Regions from separate parts of the Homo sapiens genome. Here region 1 is linked to region 2. The links come from fine-mapping of genetic effects on plasma protein levels. Region 2 holds a variant in brackets. A gene starts in the other region. All regions are shown on their reverse strands. Region 1 holds the start of IGFBP3 (insulin like growth factor binding protein 3). Region 2 holds the start of IGFALS (insulin like growth factor binding protein acid labile subunit).

What was found. PIP is the posterior inclusion probability: the model's chance that the variant is causal. Protein levels are from antibody-based Olink assays in UK Biobank. Linkage for the fine-mapping came from a reference panel and not from the study's own genotypes, which makes the PIPs less certain.
Region 1: IGFBP3 starts here. The variant in region 2 is fine-mapped to the plasma level of the IGFBP3 protein (UK Biobank, PIP above 0.99).

Annotation. Positions count from the first base shown.
Region 1 is chr7:45,910,447-45,921,499 of GRCh38, reverse strand. It overlaps IGFBP3 (insulin like growth factor binding protein 3), which reads left to right and starts at 228. Exons shown (of 5, transcript NM_000598.5): 1 at 228-762; 2 at 4,061-4,287; 3 at 4,833-4,952; 4 at 6,555-6,695; 5 at 7,666-9,255. The coding sequence starts at 360. The coding sequence ends at 6,680. RefSeq lists an enhancer at 1-425.
Region 2 is chr16:1,788,745-1,799,912 of GRCh38, reverse strand. NUBP2 (NUBP iron-sulfur cluster assembly factor 2, cytosolic) reads right to left here. Exons shown (of 7, transcript NM_012225.4): 7 at 10,727-11,168. IGFALS (insulin like growth factor binding protein acid labile subunit) reads left to right here and starts at 6,208. Exons shown (of 2, transcript NM_004970.3): 1 at 6,208-6,276; 2 at 7,512-9,500. The coding sequence starts at 6,261. The coding sequence ends at 9,313. The variant C/T (reference allele first, on the strand shown) is at 8,355.

The DNA of each region.
Region 1 (11,053 bases), not on the chromosome of region 2:
AGGTGACCCGGGCTCCGGGCGTGCGCACGAGGAGCAGGTGCCCGGGCGAGTCTCGAGCTGCACGCCCCCGAGCTCGGCCCCGGCTGCTCAGGGCGAAGCACGGGCCCCCGCAGCCGTGCCTGCGCCGACCCGCCCCCCTCCCAACCCCCACTCCTGGGCGCGCCGTTCCGGGGCGTGTCCTGGGCCACCCCGGCTTCTATATAGCGGCCGGCGCGCCCGGGCCGCCCAGATGCGAGCACTGCGGCTGGGCGCTGAGGATCAGCCGCTTCCTGCCTGGATTCCACAGCTTCGCGCCGTGTACTGTCGCCCCATCCCTGCGCGCCCAGCCTGCCAAGCAGCGTGCCCCGGTTGCAGGCGTCATGCAGCGGGCGCGACCCACGCTCTGGGCCGCTGCGCTGACTCTGCTGGTGCTGCTCCGCGGGCCGCCGGTGGCGCGGGCTGGCGCGAGCTCGGCGGGCTTGGGTCCCGTGGTGCGCTGCGAGCCGTGCGACGCGCGTGCACTGGCCCAGTGCGCGCCTCCGCCCGCCGTGTGCGCGGAGCTGGTGCGCGAGCCGGGCTGCGGCTGCTGCCTGACGTGCGCACTGAGCGAGGGCCAGCCGTGCGGCATCTACACCGAGCGCTGTGGCTCCGGCCTTCGCTGCCAGCCGTCGCCCGACGAGGCGCGACCGCTGCAGGCGCTGCTGGACGGCCGCGGGCTCTGCGTCAACGCTAGTGCCGTCAGCCGCCTGCGCGCCTACCTGCTGCCAGCGCCGCCAGCTCCAGGTGAGCCGCCCGCGCCAGGTGCGCTGCGTGCAGCACCCGGCGCACTGGCGCCGAAGGGCCTGGGGGTTGCTGGGTGCCGCTGCGGGAGACTCCGCTTTTCTTCTCACTGGAGATAATATGTGGGGAAACTGAAGGCGCTCCGGGAAAGGTGAAGGCGGTCGCCGGAGGGACCCTCCCCAGCCGGCCCTCTACTTGCTCGATTCTCTAAGTGCAGAGTACTTGTAAATTGCAAAGCGCTTTCAGTGAAAATGGGTTAAAGGTTTCCGGAGCTGAGGGGAGCGGTACCGATGTTTAGCTGTTGGAAAGATCCTGGACACAGGAGATTCTCCTCGCCCCGCACGGGGGTGCACACGGACTGCAATCCCAGGGATGCTTGGGGATGGGGGGGATATAGGCGGATTTGGACCAAGGAAGGTGGGCAGGCACGTTGTAGGAAATAGTACCTCTCTTTTAAAATACTGACTTTGCACAGCCTTTTGGTTTGCAAAGCAATGTCTAGTCCCGGTATGTCCAAAAACAAGTAAAGTGGATTCGGGTTTTGATATCTTCTGCGGTTGGAAAACCTGAAGCTGAAAAAGAAGTAACTTCTTAAGGTTACCCAGCGGCCACAACAGAGTGTAGGTTTGAACTCCGCGTGCCACTTTCAGTACCATACCATTCTTACAACTCGGGCCACCCCTGCACCTGCGCCGACCTCAAACAAACTTCCAGGTGCGTGGTGGGTGCGGGCAATGTGGACTAAGTCAATTTCAATGACACGGAAGGGAATTGGAATCAGTCCTAGGGCTGTCTCCCTTCTTAATCTGAAATGGGGGGGGGAATGAGATGTTGTTAAGGGGAGCCCCAGAAGAGGAAAAATGCAAACATTTGGCAGAGTTACCCTCTTGGCTTAGCCACTATCAGTATCAGGCAGACAGCGACTCTGGTAAGGGCATCACATTGTTCCCTTAAAAAAAGGAGCGGGGGTTGTTTAAATGGATTTGGCAGCTGTTCTTTCAAGCATTCTTAGCCAGCCTCACCTAGTTATATGAGAAATAAAGTTCCTGCCTTGCACAGCTGAAGGCTGGGAGAATTCTCCCCATCCTAATTCCCCCAACTCCCCAACGATCACGTTGGACAGATGTCACTGGGCAGGCCCCCATCTAGGGCTAGCAGGATGAACAGTCCCTTTATAATTTATGTAGCTGTAGAGTTCCACGCCCGGGTGAAGTTATTTTCTGGCTCGGCAAGGCTGGCTCTGTTCACCCCTGAGAAATGCTGGATTCATGGAAAGGCAAGATGCCTGAAACATACACTGGCTCTGGTCAGCTGTTAAAGCTGCTGGAGGCATTTGTCTCTCGGGGCAAAGTTATGTCATTTGCCAAGTGTCGTACATTATTGTGCATTTTGGGGTATTCAAAAAGTGATCTTAGAAATACTGATACACATCGTCATTCTTGGGCTTTAGCAATCATCATGATTACCACCTTAGTAGCACTGTAGTATAGGTTGATGTGAGTTATAAGATTATAAAAAGATCTAAGTGACTTCTAGAATCTATTTGACAAAAAAAGGTAAATTTTCGACAGTCAAAAGTCACAATTATCTGTTGCTTAAATAGAACTGTTTTGTCTTCATGCCCTAGTCTGCAGCCCAGGCATTAAGAAGAAACCAAGGAAATTTAAGAAATTACTCAAGGTTCTTAGAAAAGAAGTATAAATACGTTTATTTACATGTTCTTAGAGTATTTACATTCTTAGTATCTCTTTTATCTCAGTATTTCCTTGAAAAAGAAAGCAAGCTAAGATTAAAAGAAATTGAAACCAAATCCTCGCAGGTAGGGACCTCCTCTGTGAGGCTCTGTGCTGGACCCTGGGAATGTGTGCTTCCCAAGGTATGAAACCCCTTGGGGAACTTTACAGCAGGACCTCAGTGAGCTGTTTGGCAGGTGAGGAAACTAAGACCCAGAGAGGAGAGGGACTTTCCTAAGGCCCTGGTGAGTGACCTGCCAGTAGCCACTTCCAGGGGAGAGCAGAGCATCTGCAGCCAAATCATTGCAGCCCCAGGTAGCTTTCTAGAATAGACTGTGGACCAGATGGGCCACCTGAGCTCCCTGCTAGGGTTACACATTATAGCCCTGTTTGTTGTAGTAGAGAAATTTCATGACTCTCAATTGTGGACTTAAGCCGATGCCTCCAGACCTTGGCATGGTCCACAGGCCCTGGGAGCATGGGCTCTGAATGTAGCCTTTGATCCCCATAGCGGTCTTACAGCCCCTCCAAGTTCATTCTGAAGAAGGAATGGAGTGAGAATCCTGGCTGCAGATCCAGTCTTGAATTTAGTCATATACTTAAAATTCCAATTCAACTGTTAACATTCCAGCATCCATTTTAAGCATCAGACTTTCTTCATTTAGCACTTTTTATTATAAAAGGGAGATCTGCTGGAGGGGGATTTCTCCTACCCCACCCCCACCCAGGGAAGGAAAAGCTCTTTGGCACTTAGAAGTCTGAGCCGTGAGTGGGACTTTGGCATTGTCTGCATCCATGTGCTGCTGTGTTCACCCGGGGTGAAAAGGACTCACTTAGGCAGGCACCAGCAAGATGCACAGGGTCTGTGTAGACCTTGAGTTTTAGAGATGTAACGGGGACCTAGAAAACAAGCCACCAACATGCTTGCATGATTCTGAGCCCCTGAGGCAAAACGCTTTGCAGGTAATAATTCAGTTTTCCCATCTGAGCTGGACACCAAGCTCTTATAAGCGTGTTTACCTGGTAGCATTGAGGACGGTACTGGTCAACCTTGGAATTCCCATAAGGGCTTGTTACAACTCAGACTGCTGCCGCCACTCCAGCGTTTCCGGAGTGGAGAATGTGCATTTCTTCCAAGTCCCCGGGCTGCCGCTGCTCCCGCGGGTGGGAGGACCACACTTGGAGTTGACTGCAAAATTTCTGAGCCGGCGCTGCAGCAGCCTCCCGTGGCTCAGGTCTGCCCCCTGCCGGTGGAAGATGAAGCATACTGCCTTCACCTACTGAGGGGCACTGAAGCGTTTGTCTGCCTTCTTTAGTTGCAGCTACTTAGGAAGAGCACCTGTCAGATTGACTTTCAAACAGATAACTTCTTGAGGTAGAGCAACCACCATGTAGTGAGTAGTATGATGGAATAATACTTCATCGAGGTATTTTAAAAAAAAAAACTCACTTGGATTGCCAACTAATATTGTCATTTACATGTGACCTGGTTGCAACGTTAAGATTTTTAAAAGACTGTGATAGATATTGATGACTCTCATGTGTTTGTCTCTCTTGGGCGTTTTAAGGAAATGCTAGTGAGTCGGAGGAAGACCGCAGCGCCGGCAGTGTGGAGAGCCCGTCCGTCTCCAGCACGCACCGGGTGTCTGATCCCAAGTTCCACCCCCTCCATTCAAAGATAATCATCATCAAGAAAGGGCATGCTAAAGACAGCCAGCGCTACAAAGTTGACTACGAGTCTCAGAGCACAGATACCCAGAACTTCTCCTCCGAGTCCAAGCGGGAGACAGAATATGTGAGAGCTTTTCCTCTTGTTAAAGGAGGAGGGCAAGACCTGCCAAGCCTGGGTACTCAGAGCCTCTTGAGGGCAATTCTTACTCAACAAACCCCAGCGCCTGGCTGATGGGTGGGCAACCCCTAGCCCCTCTGTGCCCTACCTCTCTCCTCTCCTTACATAAAGAATATTGACCCTTTTGGAGAATCTTATGAGGATCAAGCTGAAATAACACTCTTAAAAGCATATGGGATGTCATAAAGACCTCTGCAGATAATGAAAAATATTCTCATAAAGATAGTTTTATTTACTTCATCCTCTATGCTTGTTGACCTGCTATTGGTTCCATACCAGCTTCTGTGCCTTACTCTGGGAAGAGCAAAAAGGAGACAGGGAGTGATGGTTAGCTTATTCGGGGGACTTTCGTGCTACATCAGACATAAGGTATCTGAGGAGCAAATTACAGGTCCCACTTTTGGTAGTTGTGCAGCATCGTAAGATTTTTAAAGCACACATTCTAGAGTAAAAACTGTGACTCTGTTGCTCTGGTCCTTCCTGATCCCCAGGGTCCCTGCCGTAGAGAAATGGAAGACACACTGAATCACCTGAAGTTCCTCAATGTGCTGAGTCCCAGGGGTGTACACATTCCCAACTGTGACAAGAAGGGATTTTATAAGAAAAAGCAGGTGAGTGAGGTCCTCAGTGTGTTTTCTTCCTCTTCTGTTGACACAGAGGAGAAACCCATCTCACCAGCCCCCAGGCTCTTCTGGCCATAGCTCTAACTCTGAGCCTGTGCAGCACCAGTGCCCAGGACTTGGTGCCAGTCTCAGGAGGTCAGACCAAGGGCTGCTTTGACTTGTTGCTCTGAGTGCTGCTATATTGGCCATAATCCTCAACCCTAGTGCCTTTCCACCACCCGCTTCCCACTCCTGTCCTTTCAATGGTTCACCCACAGGGCGGACAAGATGCTGCCCAGTGGCACCCTTTATAAACTGCAAGTGGACATGTTAACACATTTGTTAATGCTGCGTCAGGGAGTGACATTTCAAACAACTATTATAGTCAGTTTCCAAGAAGTGTGACATGAGGTCATACCACAAAAAGCTTACCCTGAAATCCCACAATCGTCCCCTTTCCTACTGATGCCTTCCCGATAGTGAGCAGGTTGCAATATTAAGATTTTGAAAAGGCTGTTGCTAGATGTTGGTGACTCGTGTGTCTCTGTCTCCCTTGGGCTTTTCAAGGAAATGCTAGTGAGTGGGGGGATGACTGCAGCATGGCCAGCTTGGAGAGCCCAGCCATCCCCAGCACATACCAGGTGTCTGTCTTGGCGTGGAGGGGATGGAACTTGAAATCAGACACTCGGTCCATGCTGGGGATGGCCAGTCTCTCCAAACTGGCCATGTGGTCTTCCTCCGACTCACTGGCATTTCCCTAGAAAGTCCAAGTGAGAAGAAGGCATGAGAGTCATCAACATCAAACAACAGTCTTTTCAAAATCTTTATATTGCAACATAGTCCCATTCCTGGAAAAGGAATGGAGTGAGAATCCTGGCTACACATCAGCCCCAAATGTAGTCATATGCCTAAAATCCCAATTAACCTGAAAATGATCAAACAAATTTAAGATATAGTAATATTAAGCTGTAATAAATATGCTTCTATAGGCTTTGTGTTATGTGATGGCACTATTTCAATTGGCTTTCTAATTGGACAATTGATACTATGCTATCTACAGAATTGGCCTTTGGAGACCTAAGTGAGCCACAGTGGCCTCAGGGTGACCATATACTAGGATTCATAGTAGTGGCCACAGTCAGAAAGCCTAAGCTTTCCTCCATTGCCATTGCTCGTTTATACCCACGTTTTCTGTCAAAGTCATATTCATTCAACAAAGTCATACTGAGAAGGTGTCATGTGAGGCTGGATGTGGGCTCCAAAGTCATAGCTGTGACATTCGCAGGCAGCGGGGATGTTCTCAGTCCCACATTTGGCAGAGAAGTCAGTCAAGAGGTTCTACAAGGGCTGGTGTCCACCTTATACTCCTAGAAACACAAAACTGCCCCCACCCCCGCTTTCTTGGAGCAGGAAGTTACACCCACACGCATGCACAGGCGCACACTCAGCGGGCCTAGGCACGCATGGCTCTTGTGTTGCCTTAGCTGAAATTTCTGTTGTGCTTTCTCAGCATAGCAGAGTCACGCTGGCAAACCATCATGCGCCCTGGCCACCGACCTGACACCAGACCCAGGAGCATTCACTTCTCTGTCTTCTGTTTCTCTCCCACAGTGTCGCCCTTCCAAAGGCAGGAAGCGGGGCTTCTGCTGGTGTGTGGATAAGTATGGGCAGCCTCTCCCAGGCTACACCACCAAGGGGAAGGAGGACGTGCACTGCTACAGCATGCAGAGCAAGTAGACGCCTGCCGCAAGGGTGAGTACTCAGGAGGGGCAGCCTGGGGCTCCAGGGCCTCACTGTCCTTGGACCAGCCTCAGGGGCTGGGCGTGGCCACTGGCCCTTCCCCAGGCTTACAGACCCAGGAGCTGCAGCTCAGGGCCAGAAAGAGCAAAGCAAATAGGACAGAGCCCTCAGAAGGGTGCAGGGAGAGGGAGACCCCATCAACCCAACCAAACAAGTGTGGGGAAGGAGGCCGGCCAGTGCACCTCAGGGACACTCTGCTTTATCTCAGATACCTCACAGCACCTAAGCTATCATTCATCCACACACAAAGTGAAGATTTTCAAAGTTAGGCTTTACCCGTGAGGTCTGGAGGTCCATTTATCTTCACAGAGAAACCGTTTTAATCCGCAAGAACCTGCTAAAGATACATGTTTCTAAATTAAAGATGTGAATGTGAGACAGCTGAAATAGCTCAGTTGGGAGAGCATCAGTTTGAAGATGCAGCTTTTTTTTTCTGTAAAATATATAATGAATATTCTGTTAGTCTGTGGCTAATATAATTTTAATAAAGTTAATTTAAATCTGATAGAAAAATGAAATTTTAAACGATAATTTTAGAGAATGCTATTATATCCAGTCTTCTTTTTTCTTTTAATAAATGAGGGAACTATTGGGGGAAAGGAATAAATACATTTTCTTTCATTTTATTAAGACAAATTTAGTAAGCAGAAGAAATTTGCATGTTTAGTTATAAGGGTTTCTTTTTTCCTTACAAGTTGGAAAAAATAATTCTAATTTAAGGGTAACTCTTTGACAATGAACACTGTGAGCAGCATCTGGTACTCGTTGCTTTGTTTGAAAACATGAGTTGAGACCCCAGCCCTGCACTTGCAGGCCTAGTGCCATTAGCCTGCAGGCTGTGCTGGATATCTCAGGGCAAGAGTCGAGCCCTTTTGATTTTGGGGGGATTATTTCAATATATTTCTTTTTCTTTTTGTTTTAGTTAATGTGGAGCTCAAATATGCCTTATTTTGCACAAAAGACTGCCAAGGACATGACCAGCAGCTGGCTACAGCCTCGATTTATATTTCTGTTTGTGGTGAACTGATTTTTTTTAAACCAAAGTTTAGAAAGAGGTTTTTGAAATGCCTATGGTTTCTTTGAATGGTAAACTTGAGCATCTTTTCACTTTCCAGTAGTCAGCAAAGAGCAGTTTGAATTTTCTTGTCGCTTCCTATCAAAATATTCAGAGACTCGAGCACAGCACCCAGACTTCATGCGCCCGTGGAATGCTCACCACATGTTGGTCGAAGCGGCCGACCACTGACTTTGTGACTTAGGCGGCTGTGTTGCCTATGTAGAGAACACGCTTCACCCCCACTCCCCGTACAGTGCGCACAGGCTTTATCGAGAATAGGAAAACCTTTAAACCCCGGTCATCCGGACATCCCAACGCATGCTCCTGGAGCTCACAGCCTTCTGTGGTGTCATTTCTGAAACAAGGGCGTGGATCCCTCAACCAAGAAGAATGTTTATGTCTTCAAGTGACCTGTACTGCTTGGGGACTATTGGAGAAAATAAGGTGGAGTCCTACTTGTTTAAAAAATATGTATCTAAGAATGTTCTAGGGCACTCTGGGAACCTATAAAGGCAGGTATTTCGGGCCCTCCTCTTCAGGAATCTTCCTGAAGACATGGCCCAGTCGAAGGCCCAGGATGGCTTTTGCTGCGGCCCCGTGGGGTAGGAGGGACAGAGAGACAGGGAGAGTCAGCCTCCACATTCAGAGGCATCACAAGTAATGGCACAATTCTTCGGATGACTGCAGAAAATAGTGTTTTGTAGTTCAACAACTCAAGACGAAGCTTATTTCTGAGGATAAGCTCTTTAAAGGCAAAGCTTTATTTTCATCTCTCATCTTTTGTCCTCCTTAGCACAATGTAAAAAAGAATAGTAATATCAGAACAGGAAGGAGGAATGGCTTGCTGGGGAGCCCATCCAGGACACTGGGAGCACATAGAGATTCACCCATGTTTGTTGAACTTAGAGTCATTCTCATGCTTTTCTTTATAATTCACACATATATGCAGAGAAGATATGTTCTTGTTAACATTGTATACAACATAGCCCCAAATATAGTAAGATCTATACTAGATAATCCTAGATGAAATGTTAGAGATGCTATATGATACAACTGTGGCCATGACTGAGGAAAGGAGCTCACGCCCAGAGACTGGGCTGCTCTCCCGGAGGCCAAACCCAAGAAGGTCTGGCAAAGTCAGGCTCAGGGAGACTCTGCCCTGCTGCAGACCTCGGTGTGGACACACGCTGCATAGAGCTCTCCTTGAAAACAGAGGGGTCTCAAGACATTCTGCCTACCTATTAGCTTTTCTTTATTTTTTTAACTTTTTGGGGGGAAAAGTATTTTTGAGAAGTTTGTCTTGCAATGTATTTATAAATAGTAAATAAAGTTTTTACCATTAAAAAAATATCTTTCCCTTTGTTATTGACCATCTCTGGGCTTTGTATCACTAATTATTTTATTTTATTATATAATAATTATTTTATTATAATAAAATCCTGAAAGGGGAAAATATTTTAGCTGTAGTGGAAAACTTCATAACCACAAATGTTTCCCTGCTTTCCCTTTTAGCAAAAGAACCCAAGTCAGTTTCCATGGCTTTGTGGGAAGCCTATGGAGGCATTGGGTCATATCTGCAAGATGGTCCAATTCTAGGAGGTTGTGTTGTTGGGACAGTCTGTGGCCCAGGTTTGATCAGGTCAGCAATGTGCACCTATGTGACTGGTCCTTGCCTTTTTTGGGTTGTGTCCTGTATTGTCCCATCTAACACTAGCAGCCATCCACAGACAAGCAGGGAAGGACCAGAACAGACACTCAGCAATTCAGTCTCGTGTCCTTTACCGCTTTGTCCCCTTCCCATCTCCAATCAGAGAGTGGCCCTTCTCTGCTCCAAGCAGAAGGGGTTCTGGGATCTAAGCCCCCTCATCTGCAGCCTTGGAAGAATTGTTACTTGTCAAAGCCACTTTAGACAAAACACTGAGCCTGTGGCTTCAGAGCATCCAAGGATAAACTGCAGTCGAAGAGTTACCTCCTGTCGAGTTACCTCCTGTCTAGCGCCATGTCTGATTTGTTGATGAAACATCTAAAATGATACCCTTATCACGTGTTGTATGTGATGAGCAGCAAGCCGGTTCTGTAAGTGTTCAGAGGACTGGTATTGTGGTGTGTGGTCTCAGGCTGATCACATGAGAAACCAGGACAAATGAGAAAGCAGGCCCCTTGGGGGTGCTGTGACTGCAAGGCTGTGAGGATGGAGGGAGACAGTGAGCAGAAGGAGCCCATTGCAGGGAGCAGGCACCAAGCGTCACGGAGAGTTGTGCGGCAGAATCCTGGAGCACCTGGGGAGCGAGGCCAAGTGTCTGGAAATCCAGGACCGGAACGTGGCAACCTCTTGGGAGCTGCTGAAGAGCTATGAGCTACAAAATAATGCTTGCCTTCTAAGCCCACTGGGTTTGTTTTCCTGGGAGCCACCAACTCATGTGCCCTTTCTTGTCCTCATTTCTTAACCTCTAACTTCTGCTGCTTCCCACACTTCATGATGATTAATTCTATGTGTCAACTTGACTGGGCCATGGGGTGCCCAGGTACAGCATCTGTGAGGGTGATACTGTGAGCGTAGTATCTGTGAAGGTGTTTCCAGATAAGATTAGCATTTAAATCAGTGGACTCAGTAAAATAGATTGCCCTCCCCAATGTGGGCAGGCATCCATCGATCCATTAAGGTTCTGAATAGAACAAAAGGCAGAGGAAAGAAGGGTTTGTGCCTTTTTTCTGTCTGCGTGGGCAGAATTGCACCACCAGCTTTCCTGGTTCTCCAGCTTGCAGATTACAGATGGTGAGACTTAGCCTCCATACTTAGCCAATTTTTTGTAATAAGTCTTTTTTGGTGGGTGATTAGAGATAAGTAGGTAGATAGACTAGATAGATGATAGATTGATAGATTAGATAGATAGGTAGATTAGACAGAGATAGATACATAGATGATAGATAGATAGATAGATAGATAGATAGATAGATAGATAGATAGATAGACAGACAGATAGATATAACCTGTTAGTTCTGTTTCTCTGGGAAACCCTGACACAATACCTATGATCAACTATTCCCTCTAAATGCTCTCCTGCCACTTCCAGTAAATACCTTAAAATTGCATACTCTCATTCTCCTCTGGACCCTCCAGTTCTTCTACCTCCCTGCCTTGGTTCTGATCCTCTGCCATCTTCCTCAGGCAACTTCTGCTCCCTGGGGCTTTTGCTTCCACTAACCCCTAAGGTCACATGTACCCAAGCAACCTGCACGCAGACACACACAG
Region 2 (11,168 bases):
ACACGGGAACAGTTAACCCTGAGCCTGGCCTCTCCCTCTTAAGAGGCCGATTAGAAGGGAAAACAGGACAGTGTTGGCACAAAATAGTACTTGAAACCGTAAAAATAAAATAGAGGACATTAAGAATTTTGCCGTTTTCCCATCTGCATTAGTCCATTCTCACATTGCTATAAAGGACTGCCTGAGAGTGGGTAATTTATAAAGAAAAGAGGTTTAATTGACTTGCAGTTCCACAAGGCTGGCGAGGCCTCAGGAAACTTACAATCATGGTGGGTAAGGACGCAAACATGTGCTTCTTCACATGGCAGCAGGAGAGAGAAATTAGTGCCCAGTGAAGGGGGAAGCCCCTTATAAAACCATCAGATCTCATGAGAACTCACTTTCAAGAGAACAGGATGGCAGGAACCACGCCCATGATTCGGCCATTCCACTGGGTCCCGTGCACAACATGTGGGGATTATGGGAACTACAATTCAAGATAAGATTTGGGTGGGGACACAGCCCAACCATATCATTCCACCTCTGGCCCCTCCTAAACCGCATGTCCTCACAATTCAAAACACAATCATGCCCTTCCAGCCATCCCCCAAAGTCTTAACTCATTCCAGCATTAACCCAAAAGTCCAAGTCCAGAGTCTCATCTGAGACAAAGCAAGTCCCTTCTGCCTATAAGCCTGTAAAATCAAAAGCCAAGTGAGTTACTTCCTAGATACAGTGGGGGTACAGGCATTGGGTAAATACACCTATTCCAAATGGGAGAAATTGGCCAAAACAAAGGGGCTACAGGCCCCAGGCAAATCTGAAATCCAACAGGGCAGTCAAATCTTAAAGCTCCAAAATGATCTCCTTTGACTCCATGTCTCACATCCAGATCACACTGATGCAAGAGCTGGGTTCCCAAGGCCTTGGGCAGCTCCACCCCTGTGGCTATGCAGGGTACAGCCCCCCTCCCAGCTGCTTTCACAGGCTTGTGACAAGTGTCTGTGGCTTTTCCAGGTCCATGGTGCAAGCTGTTGTCGGTGGATCTACCATTCTGGGGTCTGGAGGATGGTGGCCCTTTTCTCACAGCTCCACTAGGCAGTGCCCTAGTAGGGACCCTGTGGAGGGATCCAACCCCACATTTCCCTTCCGTATTGCCCTAGCAGAGGTTCTCTGTGAAGACTCTACCCCTGCAGCACACTTCTGCCTGGACATCCAGTAGTTCCTATACATCCTCTGAAATCCAGGCAGAGGTTCCTAAACCTGAATTTTTAATTTATTAATTTATTTATGTTTGAGATGGCGTCTTGCTCTGTCACCCAGGCTGGAGTGCAGTGGCATGATCTTGGCTCACTGCAACTTCTGCCTCCCAGGTTCAAGTGATTCTCCCACCTCAGCCTCCCAGGTAGCTGGGACTAGAGGCGTGCACCACCATGCTTGGCTAATTTTTGTATTTTTAGTAGGGACACGGTTTCACCATGTTGGCCAGGCTGGTCTCAAACTCCTGACCTCAGGTGATCCACTTGCCTCGGCCTCCCAAAGTGTTGGGATTACAGGCGTGAGCCATTGCACCTAGCTCCCAAACCTCAATTCTTGACTTCTGGGCATCTGCAGGCCCAATACCACATGGAAACTGCCAAGGCTTGGGGCTTGCACCCTCTGAAGCAACAGTCTGAGCTGTACCTTGGCTCCTTTAGCCATGGCTGGGAGGCAGGGCACCCGAGACTACACAAAGCAGCAAGGCCCTGGGTCTGGTCCACTAAACCATTTTTTCCTCCTAGGCCTCGGGGCCTGTGATGGGAGGGGCTGCCCTGAAGACGTCTGACATGCCCTGGAGACATTTTCCCCACTGTCTTGGTGATTAACATTTGGCTCCTTGTTATGCAAATTTCTGCAGCCAGCTTAAATTTCTCCTCAGAAAATGGGCTTTTCTGTTTTATGGCATCATCACGCTGCAAATTTTTCAGTCTTTTATGGTTGGCTTCCCTTTTAAACATAAGTTCCAATTCCAAACCATATCTTTGTGAATACATAAAACTGAATGCTTTTAACAGCATCCAGGTCACATTTTGAACAGTTTGCTGCTTAGAAATTTCTTTCACTGGCTGGGCGCAGTGGCTCATGCCTGTAATCCCAGCACTTTGGGAGGCCAAGGCGGGCAGATCACAAGGTCAGGAGATCAAGACGCTCCTGGCCAACATGGTGAGACCCTGTCTCTACTAAAAATACAAAAATTAGCTGGGTGTGACAGCGTGCTTCTGTAGTTCCAGCTACTCAGGAAGCTGAGACAGGAGAATCGCTTGAACATGGGAGGCAGTGGTTGCAGTGAGCCGAGATTGCGCCACTGCACTCCAGCCTGGGTGACAAAGTGAGACTCCATCTCAGAAAAAAAAAAAAAAATTTATTTCACTAGATGCCCTAAATCATCTCTCACAAGTTCAAAGTTCCACAAATCTCTAGAGCAGGGGCAACATGCCACCAGTCTCTGCTAAAACATAGCAAGAGTCACCTTTATTCCAGTTTCCTACAAGTTCCTCTTCTCCGAGACCACCTCAGCCTGGACTTTGTTGGCCATATCACTATCAGGATTTTGGTCAAAGGCATTCAGCAAGTCTAGGAAGCGCCAGACTTTCCCACATCTTCCTGTCCTTTTCTGAGCCCTCCAAACGGTTCCAACCTCTGCCTGCTACCCAGTTCCAAAGTCACTTCCACATTTTTGGGTATCTTTACAGCAGTGTCCCACTGTAATAATAATTATTACAGTAATAATTTACTGTATTAGTCTTTTCTCATGCTGCTGATAAAGACATACCTGAGACTGGGTAATTTATAAAGGAAAGAGGTTTAATGGACTCACAGTTCCACATGGCTGGGGAGGCCTCACAATCATGGCGGAAGGCAGAGGGTCTTACACGGCGGCAGGCAAGAGAGCGTCTGCAGGGGAACTCCCATTTATAAAACCATCAGGTCTCAGCCAGGCGCAGTGGCTCACGCCTGTAATCCCAGCACTTTGGGAGGCTGAGGCGGGTGGATCACGAGGTCAGGAGATCGAGACCATCGTGGTTAACACGGTGAAACCCCATCTCTACTGAAAATACAAAAAATTAGCCGGGCGTAGTGGTGGGCACCTGTAGTCCCAGCTATTTGGGAGGCTGAGGCAGGAGAATGGCATGAACCTGGAAGGTGGAGCTTGCCGTGAGCCGAGATTGTGCCACTGCACTCCAGCCTGGGAGACAGAGCAAGACTCCATCTCAAACAAACACACAAAAAACAAAAACAACCATCAGGTCTCATGAGAGTTACTACCACAACAGTATGGGGAAAACTGCCCCCTGATTGAGTTGTTTCCACCTGTCCCTGCCCTTGACACATGGGAATTATTACAGTTCAAGGTGAGATTTGGGTGGGGATGTGAGGCCAAACCAAATCATCTTTGTTGTTGGTATCTGAGGAATCAACCTCAACATTTAAGGGATATCATCTCAATTAAAATTAAGAACTCTCGCCGGCCCGGTGGCTCACGCTTGTAATCCCAGAGCTTTGGGAGGCCAAGGCAGGCAAATCACCTGAGGTCAGGAGTTTGAGACCAGCCTGACTAACATGGAGAAACCCTGTCTCTACTAAAAATACAAAATTAGGGGCTGGGCACGGTGGCTCACACCTGTAATCCCAGCACTTTGGGAGGCCGAGGCCGGCAAATCACCCGAGGTCGGGAGTTTGAGACCAGCTTGGCCAACATGGTGAAACCCTGTCTCTACTAAAAATACAAAACATTAGCCAGGCGTGGTGGCTCATGCCTGTAATCCCAGCTACTTGGGAGGCTGAGGCAGAAGACTCGCTTGAACATGGGAGGTGGAGGTTGCAGTGAGCGGAGATCACACCACTGGACTCCAGCCCTGGTAACAGACTGAGACTCCATCTCAAAAAATAAATAAATAAAATAAAATAAAAATTAGCCAGGTGTGGTGGTTCATGCCTATAATCCCAGCTACTTGGGAGGCTGAGGCAGGAGAACTGCTTGAACCCAGGAGGCAGAGGTTGCAGTGAGCTGAGATCGCACCATTACACTCCAGCCTGGGCAACGAGCAAAACTCCATCTCAAAAAAAAAAAAAAAAAAAAAACTCACCAGAATCCTAACGAGAGGACAGAAAGGCCACACACCTGAGTGTGCGTGCTGAATGCTTTTGTTTTTTCTTGTATCTTGCAAATCAGAAATCAGCCAGCTAACTAGAAAATCGGCAAGAGACCGAAACCAGCAGTGGCTGAGGCCAGATGACCCTGTGGCTGTGTGCTGGACAAGATGCTCGGTCTCCCAGGTGATGGCCACCGTCCACTCGCCACTGGCCTGAGTGTAGACAGGTATGCACCCACAGGATGCAGAGCCACAGGGCTCGGTGGCATTGCTGGAAACAGTGAGAAGGACAGGGACAGATGTATTCCAGGACGTGACCTAGACATGGCCTCACCTCCCTCGGGTCCTGTCCTACAGAAAGCCAGGCCCTGTGCGGCCTGAAGACAGGCAGAATGCGGCTCATGGAGGAGCCTGGGAGGCCACCGGCCTTGAGCTGGGAGAGGCCACGGGGAGTGGGGCCATTGGGGGTGGCGGCAGTGATGGGGGCCTCTGGAACTCAATGGGCTGAATGTGTGTGTAGGCCTCTGCGTTACCACAGGAATCAAAGAGGCCTGGAGCCCCCTTACGCGGCTGCCGCAACCCTGGTGAGGCTCTGCCCGCCCGCGACACCCGGCCCCTCCCAAAGGAAGAGAACAGGGACAGATTCTCCCTTCCCACCTGGAATGTGTGGGGCTCCCAGGTGGGGTGCGCGGCCTGACGGAGGCCGGGGCCCCCACGGGGACCTCTCCTGAGAGGAGGCCGCCCGGGTCTGCTGGCCTCAGGCCCCAGGCCCCTGCTGAGTCTGCGTTTTCTGCTGAGTAAACGGATCGTGGGTCTTTCTGGGTGTGGACTTTCTCCCCGTGGATCTATAATTTCTCAGAAGAGGAGCCGAGACGCCACCTGGAAAATGATCAATTCTCGATAAAGGGAAGACGATGACAGTGGGCCGGCGGCTTCCCACAGCTCTGCACGGGGCCTGCCAGGTGAGGCCGGAGCTGAGGATGGGGTAGGGCCCTGGAAAACTGTGGTCTCCCCGAGCCCTGGCTGTGCCCCCGCCTGCACCCCTTCCGGCTGCTTCCCTGCACACTTTCCCACTGCCGAGGGACTGGTGGGCAGGCCCCACTGACAGCCAGGGGAGGGGCCTGCAGGGACCTGGAGGGGAGGGGCTGCACCTGCTCAGGCCCTGGGGGAGAGAGCGACTGGTTGGGAAGTGGTTTGAGCAGGTGGAGGGGAACCAGGGGCCTCTGGAGGCAGGTGGAGACGGAGCCCAGGGGTGGCCTTGGACATGGCTGGGCACACATTCCTGTGGCCTCTCTGCACACAAGCGGTGACTGTGGGGCGGCCAGGCCCTCACCAGAGCCTTGGGGGACAGCAAGGGGCAGGTGAGGCTTGTCTGAGGCACAAGACCTGGCTCCCATGGCCAGGCCACCCCCACACACTCCCCGAGGATGGCGCAGGGCAAAAGCAAACAGGCGCCTGCAGCCCTGCCAGGCATTCCTAGAAGAGGCTGGGGGCGGGGCAGTGGCCAGACACCAGCGCCCCTGGGGTCACGGGAGAGGCAGGGTGAGCTTGGGCCCTGGACAGCACCGTGGGCCTGAAGCCCAAACGGCAGCTCCCACCCAGGCTGTAGGGAACCCCCGGGAGGGCGGGTGGATGGCTGGGTGGGGCACGGGGAAGGGGCGGCAGCCCCTTAGCCCCACACGGCTGGCTACTCAGGCCAGGGGTGGGCTCAAGACCCCAGGAGCTGCCCGAGGAGCCCCCTGCCCGCAACAGGACCTGGTAAAACCCTGGGCTCCCCAAACCGGCCTCAAGCCCCAGCCCCTCCCAGGCTGCTGCAAGGGGTCCCCACCCCAACCTGGCTGCCCAGCCCTCCCCAGTCAGCCCTGCAGGGGGCCCGGGCACTGGCCGTCAGCCCCCAGGGCCGCATTACGGCTACCTCGGGCCCCGACTGAAGCTCCCTCACCCCCTGCACTGTCTGCACCCCAGGGCTCCGGGCTGATGCCGGCCGCCCGGCACGAGGGGGTTAACAGAGCCAGGGCCAGCTGGGTTGGGCCAGCCAGGTGACAGGCGCGGGCTGCCCCGCAGTGGGGAAATCCAGAGGGCAGGGGTGGCCGGCACAGCAGACGTACCCTCCCTCGCTGCCTGCCTGCAGCCTGCCCTGCATGCAGGATGGCCCTGAGGAAAGGTGAGGCCCCCGAGTGCCCCGCCACCCACTCTAGGGGTGGCCAGTCTGTGACCCTGAGCCCGCTGGGGAGAGGCCGGGGTAGCCCCCAAGGAAGCTCTGGGGGGCTCAGCTCTGGGGGTCTGCGGGGGACTCTGGGGAGCCCACAGTCGGAAATGCGGCTGCTGGGGTTGGCAGGGGGACACAGCTGTGCCTGGCACCAGGGGTCTCTGTCCCGTCCTCCACCCTAAGGGCGCTGGCGGCGGCACAGGGGAGGAGGGCCAGGTGCAGGCCGGACCCTTCAGCTCCCAGCACAGCGGCGGGAAGTGCCCCGCACGGCCCGCGTTGTGGGCCCGGCCCAGGCAGGAGACGTTGGCTCACACCCCATTGTCTCTGTGGGGTGACCCCTTGCAGCTTCGGCCACCCCCAAGCCTGAGCTGAGCTCCAGAGCTGGCTCAGGCCACTCCCAACCCATCGTGACAGAAGGGCAGTCGGGGGGGCCCCACCTCGCCCCTGCCACCATCCCAGCAATTCCACACTCTCTGAGGATGGGGGGGCCATACAGTAGAGGTTTTGGGTCATCGCTGCTTGGGAGCCTGCTGGCTGGGTCTGTGGGGCCTGTGGCCCCTTGTCCTGAAAGGCAATGTGAGCTTTGGTGGCCGACGGTCCAGGGTTCCTACCTGTCCCCCGACGGCGGTGCCCCGGTCCCCTCCCGCAGCACCCGACCAAGGCCTGGATGCAGGCAGGTGAGACCCCGCTGGGGGGCCTAACTGGGGCAGGAGGTGCCCAGCTCCCTGTCCAGCCTCTGAGGGCAGTGAGCGAGTGCCCACCAAGACCTGCTGCAGAATATTCTGAAAATGGCCGGACCTTGGCCAATGGCTCAGTTCCCTCCCCTTCCTCTAGGCCAACGTGGCAGACTGGCCTGGCTCAAGCGCCTGCCTTGGGGGTGCGGCTGCCACATGGCCAGACAGCCCGAGACCCAGCCTGGCCGAGCCCACGTGGCCTGCGCACAGCTGGAGAGCCAAGCCCTGAGCGTCTGTGCAGCGGGGCGGGGCGGCCACTCCTCTGTCCCATGGGGTGGGAAGCGCAGTGTCAGCTTTTGAGCCGGAGGACCTGTGGGGCTCACCGGCTTCTTCGCATCTCAGCGGGTGACCTCGAGCCTCAGTTCACACCTGAGCGCCGCTTCCGGCTGTGCTGGTATCAGGCTCACTCGGGCAGAGCCCTCCTCGGGCCGCCTCCCCAAGCCTCTCCCCCCGCAGGAGGCCTGGCCCTGGCGCTGCTGCTGCTGTCCTGGGTGGCACTGGGCCCCCGCAGCCTGGAGGGAGCAGACCCCGGAACGCCGGGGGAAGCCGAGGGCCCAGCGTGCCCGGCCGCCTGTGTCTGCAGCTACGATGACGACGCGGATGAGCTCAGCGTCTTCTGCAGCTCCAGGAACCTCACGCGCCTGCCTGATGGAGTCCCGGGCGGCACCCAAGCCCTGTGGCTGGACGGCAACAACCTCTCGTCCGTCCCCCCGGCAGCCTTCCAGAACCTCTCCAGCCTGGGCTTCCTCAACCTGCAGGGCGGCCAGCTGGGCAGCCTGGAGCCACAGGCGCTGCTGGGCCTAGAGAACCTGTGCCACCTGCACCTGGAGCGGAACCAGCTGCGCAGCCTGGCACTCGGCACGTTTGCACACACGCCCGCGCTGGCCTCGCTCGGCCTCAGCAACAACCGTCTGAGCAGGCTGGAGGACGGGCTCTTCGAGGGCCTCGGCAGCCTCTGGGACCTCAACCTCGGCTGGAATAGCCTGGCGGTGCTCCCCGATGCGGCGTTCCGCGGCCTGGGCAGCCTGCGCGAGCTGGTGCTGGCGGGCAACAGGCTGGCCTACCTGCAGCCCGCGCTCTTCAGCGGCCTGGCCGAGCTCCGGGAGCTGGACCTGAGCAGGAACGCGCTGCGGGCCATCAAGGCAAACGTGTTCGTGCAGCTGCCCCGGCTCCAGAAACTCTACCTGGACCGCAACCTCATCGCTGCCGTGGCCCCGGGCGCCTTCCTGGGCCTGAAGGCGCTGCGATGGCTGGACCTGTCCCACAACCGCGTGGCTGGCCTCCTGGAGGACACGTTCC[C/T]CGGTCTGCTGGGCCTGCGTGTGCTGCGGCTGTCCCACAACGCCATCGCCAGCCTGCGGCCCCGCACCTTCAAGGACCTGCACTTCCTGGAGGAGCTGCAGCTGGGCCACAACCGCATCCGGCAGCTGGCTGAGCGCAGCTTTGAGGGCCTGGGGCAGCTTGAGGTGCTCACGCTAGACCACAACCAGCTCCAGGAGGTCAAGGCGGGCGCTTTCCTCGGCCTCACCAACGTGGCGGTCATGAACCTCTCTGGGAACTGTCTCCGGAACCTTCCGGAGCAGGTGTTCCGGGGCCTGGGCAAGCTGCACAGCCTGCACCTGGAGGGCAGCTGCCTGGGACGCATCCGCCCGCACACCTTCACCGGCCTCTCGGGGCTCCGCCGACTCTTCCTCAAGGACAACGGCCTCGTGGGCATTGAGGAGCAGAGCCTGTGGGGGCTGGCGGAGCTGCTGGAGCTCGACCTGACCTCCAACCAGCTCACGCACCTGCCCCACCGCCTCTTCCAGGGCCTGGGCAAGCTGGAGTACCTGCTGCTCTCCCGCAACCGCCTGGCAGAGCTGCCGGCGGACGCCCTGGGCCCCCTGCAGCGGGCCTTCTGGCTGGACGTCTCGCACAACCGCCTGGAGGCATTGCCCAACAGCCTCTTGGCACCACTGGGGCGGCTGCGCTACCTCAGCCTCAGGAACAACTCACTGCGGACCTTCACGCCGCAGCCCCCGGGCCTGGAGCGCCTGTGGCTGGAGGGTAACCCCTGGGACTGTGGCTGCCCTCTCAAGGCGCTGCGGGACTTCGCCCTGCAGAACCCCAGTGCTGTGCCCCGCTTCGTCCAGGCCATCTGTGAGGGGGACGATTGCCAGCCGCCCGCGTACACCTACAACAACATCACCTGTGCCAGCCCGCCCGAGGTCGTGGGGCTCGACCTGCGGGACCTCAGCGAGGCCCACTTTGCTCCCTGCTGACCAGGTCCCCGGACTCAAGCCCCGGACTCAGGCCCCCACCTGGCTCACCTTGTGCTGGGGACAGGTCCTCAGTGTCCTCAGGGGCCTGCCCAGTGCACTTGCTGGAAGACGCAAGGGCCTGATGGGGTGGAAGGCATGGCGGCCCCCCCAGCTGTCATCAATTAAAGGCAAAGGCAATCGAATCTAACAGGCACAGTGGGTGACTGCGAACGTGAAACCAGGGAGGGGGCTGGGGGCTCGGCGCGCAGCTGTGGTCTCAGAGCTTTGGGAGGCCGAGGCGGGCGGATCGCTTGAGCCCAGGAGTTTGAGAGACCGTCCTGGGCAACACAAGAGAGACCCCGTCTCTACAAAAAATAAAAAAAATTAGCATAGCATGGTGGCCCATGCCTGTGGTCCTAGGGAGGCCGAGGCAGGAGGACTACTGGAGCCTGGGAGGTAGAGGCTGCCGTGAGCCAAGACTGCACCACTGCACTCCAGCCTGGGCGGCAGAGCAACACCCTGTCTCAAAAAAACCCACCTGGCTCAGGGGAGGGGAGGATGGTGTTGCCTGGGTACGCCTTGGTCTCCTCACCTCTCTCCTCCCCGGCTTGGCCACGCCCAGGGCCCCCGCCTGGATCCTGCCCCGCCACCGCCCTGGCCAACTGCCCCACACCCATGTGTCTTCCTGGTCCCCGTGGCTGCCCCTCGGGCTCCCCAGAACATCCTCCAGGAATGATGGCACCAACTCGAATCCCCAGGGGCTCTGCGTCTCACCCCTCCTCTTTGAGGGATCGCCCTGAGGACCAGGCAGTGTCCCCGAGGGGTGTGGTCCAGGCAGCCAGGGCGCGGCTGAGGTGGGGTGAGGAGGGAGCGCGGGGCGGGCCGTCCGCCTTGCGTGGGAAGCCGCACCCCCTGCAGATGCCGTGGGCGTTTGTCTCTGCCCCCCCCAGGCACCGGCATCGTCAGCCCAGGTGCTCCTGGTGCCCTCTCACCCACCCAGAGGCCGCCCGGGTTGGTTCCGGGCCCCCACCTCCAGGGTCCTCCCCTGCTGAAGGCTGAGCTCTTCCTTTGGGAAAAATGGCGCGTTCTGCTTTCTGGAAGGGCTTTCCTTTCGGGTCTCACTGGGAAGAGGTGCAGGGGACCCCTGGGATTGGAGCTCCCTTCTCAACCTGACTTCTGGTCTCTGTCCCGGGAGGGGCCCCTTTAGTGTCCCAGGGAGGCCATTCTTCCACGGCGAAGGGGCCAGCTGTCAGGTTTATCACAAAATCTCCCCGAATTCCCACCAAATAAGATGCAAACACATCAGCACCTGGGCCCAGGGGCTTGTTGACAACGGAACGAACGAACCTGCCGGCCTGGCCCAGTCCAGCCCAGAAACTTACAGAAGCAGGTGCTGTCTGACCCCGAAGGACAGAAGACTCTAGAAACATCAGATCTGTCGCCACAGCAGCGGACACGTTTAATGGCAGGCGCCTCTACAGTTACAAAACATGCCTGAGGTCAGTTCGCCCCCTTAGGGGGCACTCCCCGAGCTAAACACAGATGACAGCGACCCAGGGTGCTGGAGGCCCGGGGTCACCTGAGGACTGCAGAAGTCCCGCGCTCCGCTAACTGTGTGGACACGCGGCTGCCAGGGGCACAGGTAGGCAACATGGATGGGAAGAGAGCCCAGGCCGCCCCCGTCTCACAGCTGCAGAGCACGCAGACCACGGCACTGCAGGCCAACCAGGCAGAGCTGCTGGTGCGACACATCCTGGGGCTGGGCTGGTCGGGGAGAAGCTCTCCGGCTGACGCTGCCTGGGCCTGCCCCTGCAGGGCCCGGGAACCGAGCCCAGGCCTCTGTTTCTCTGAGAGGCTGGAGCAGAGCCCTTGGTGG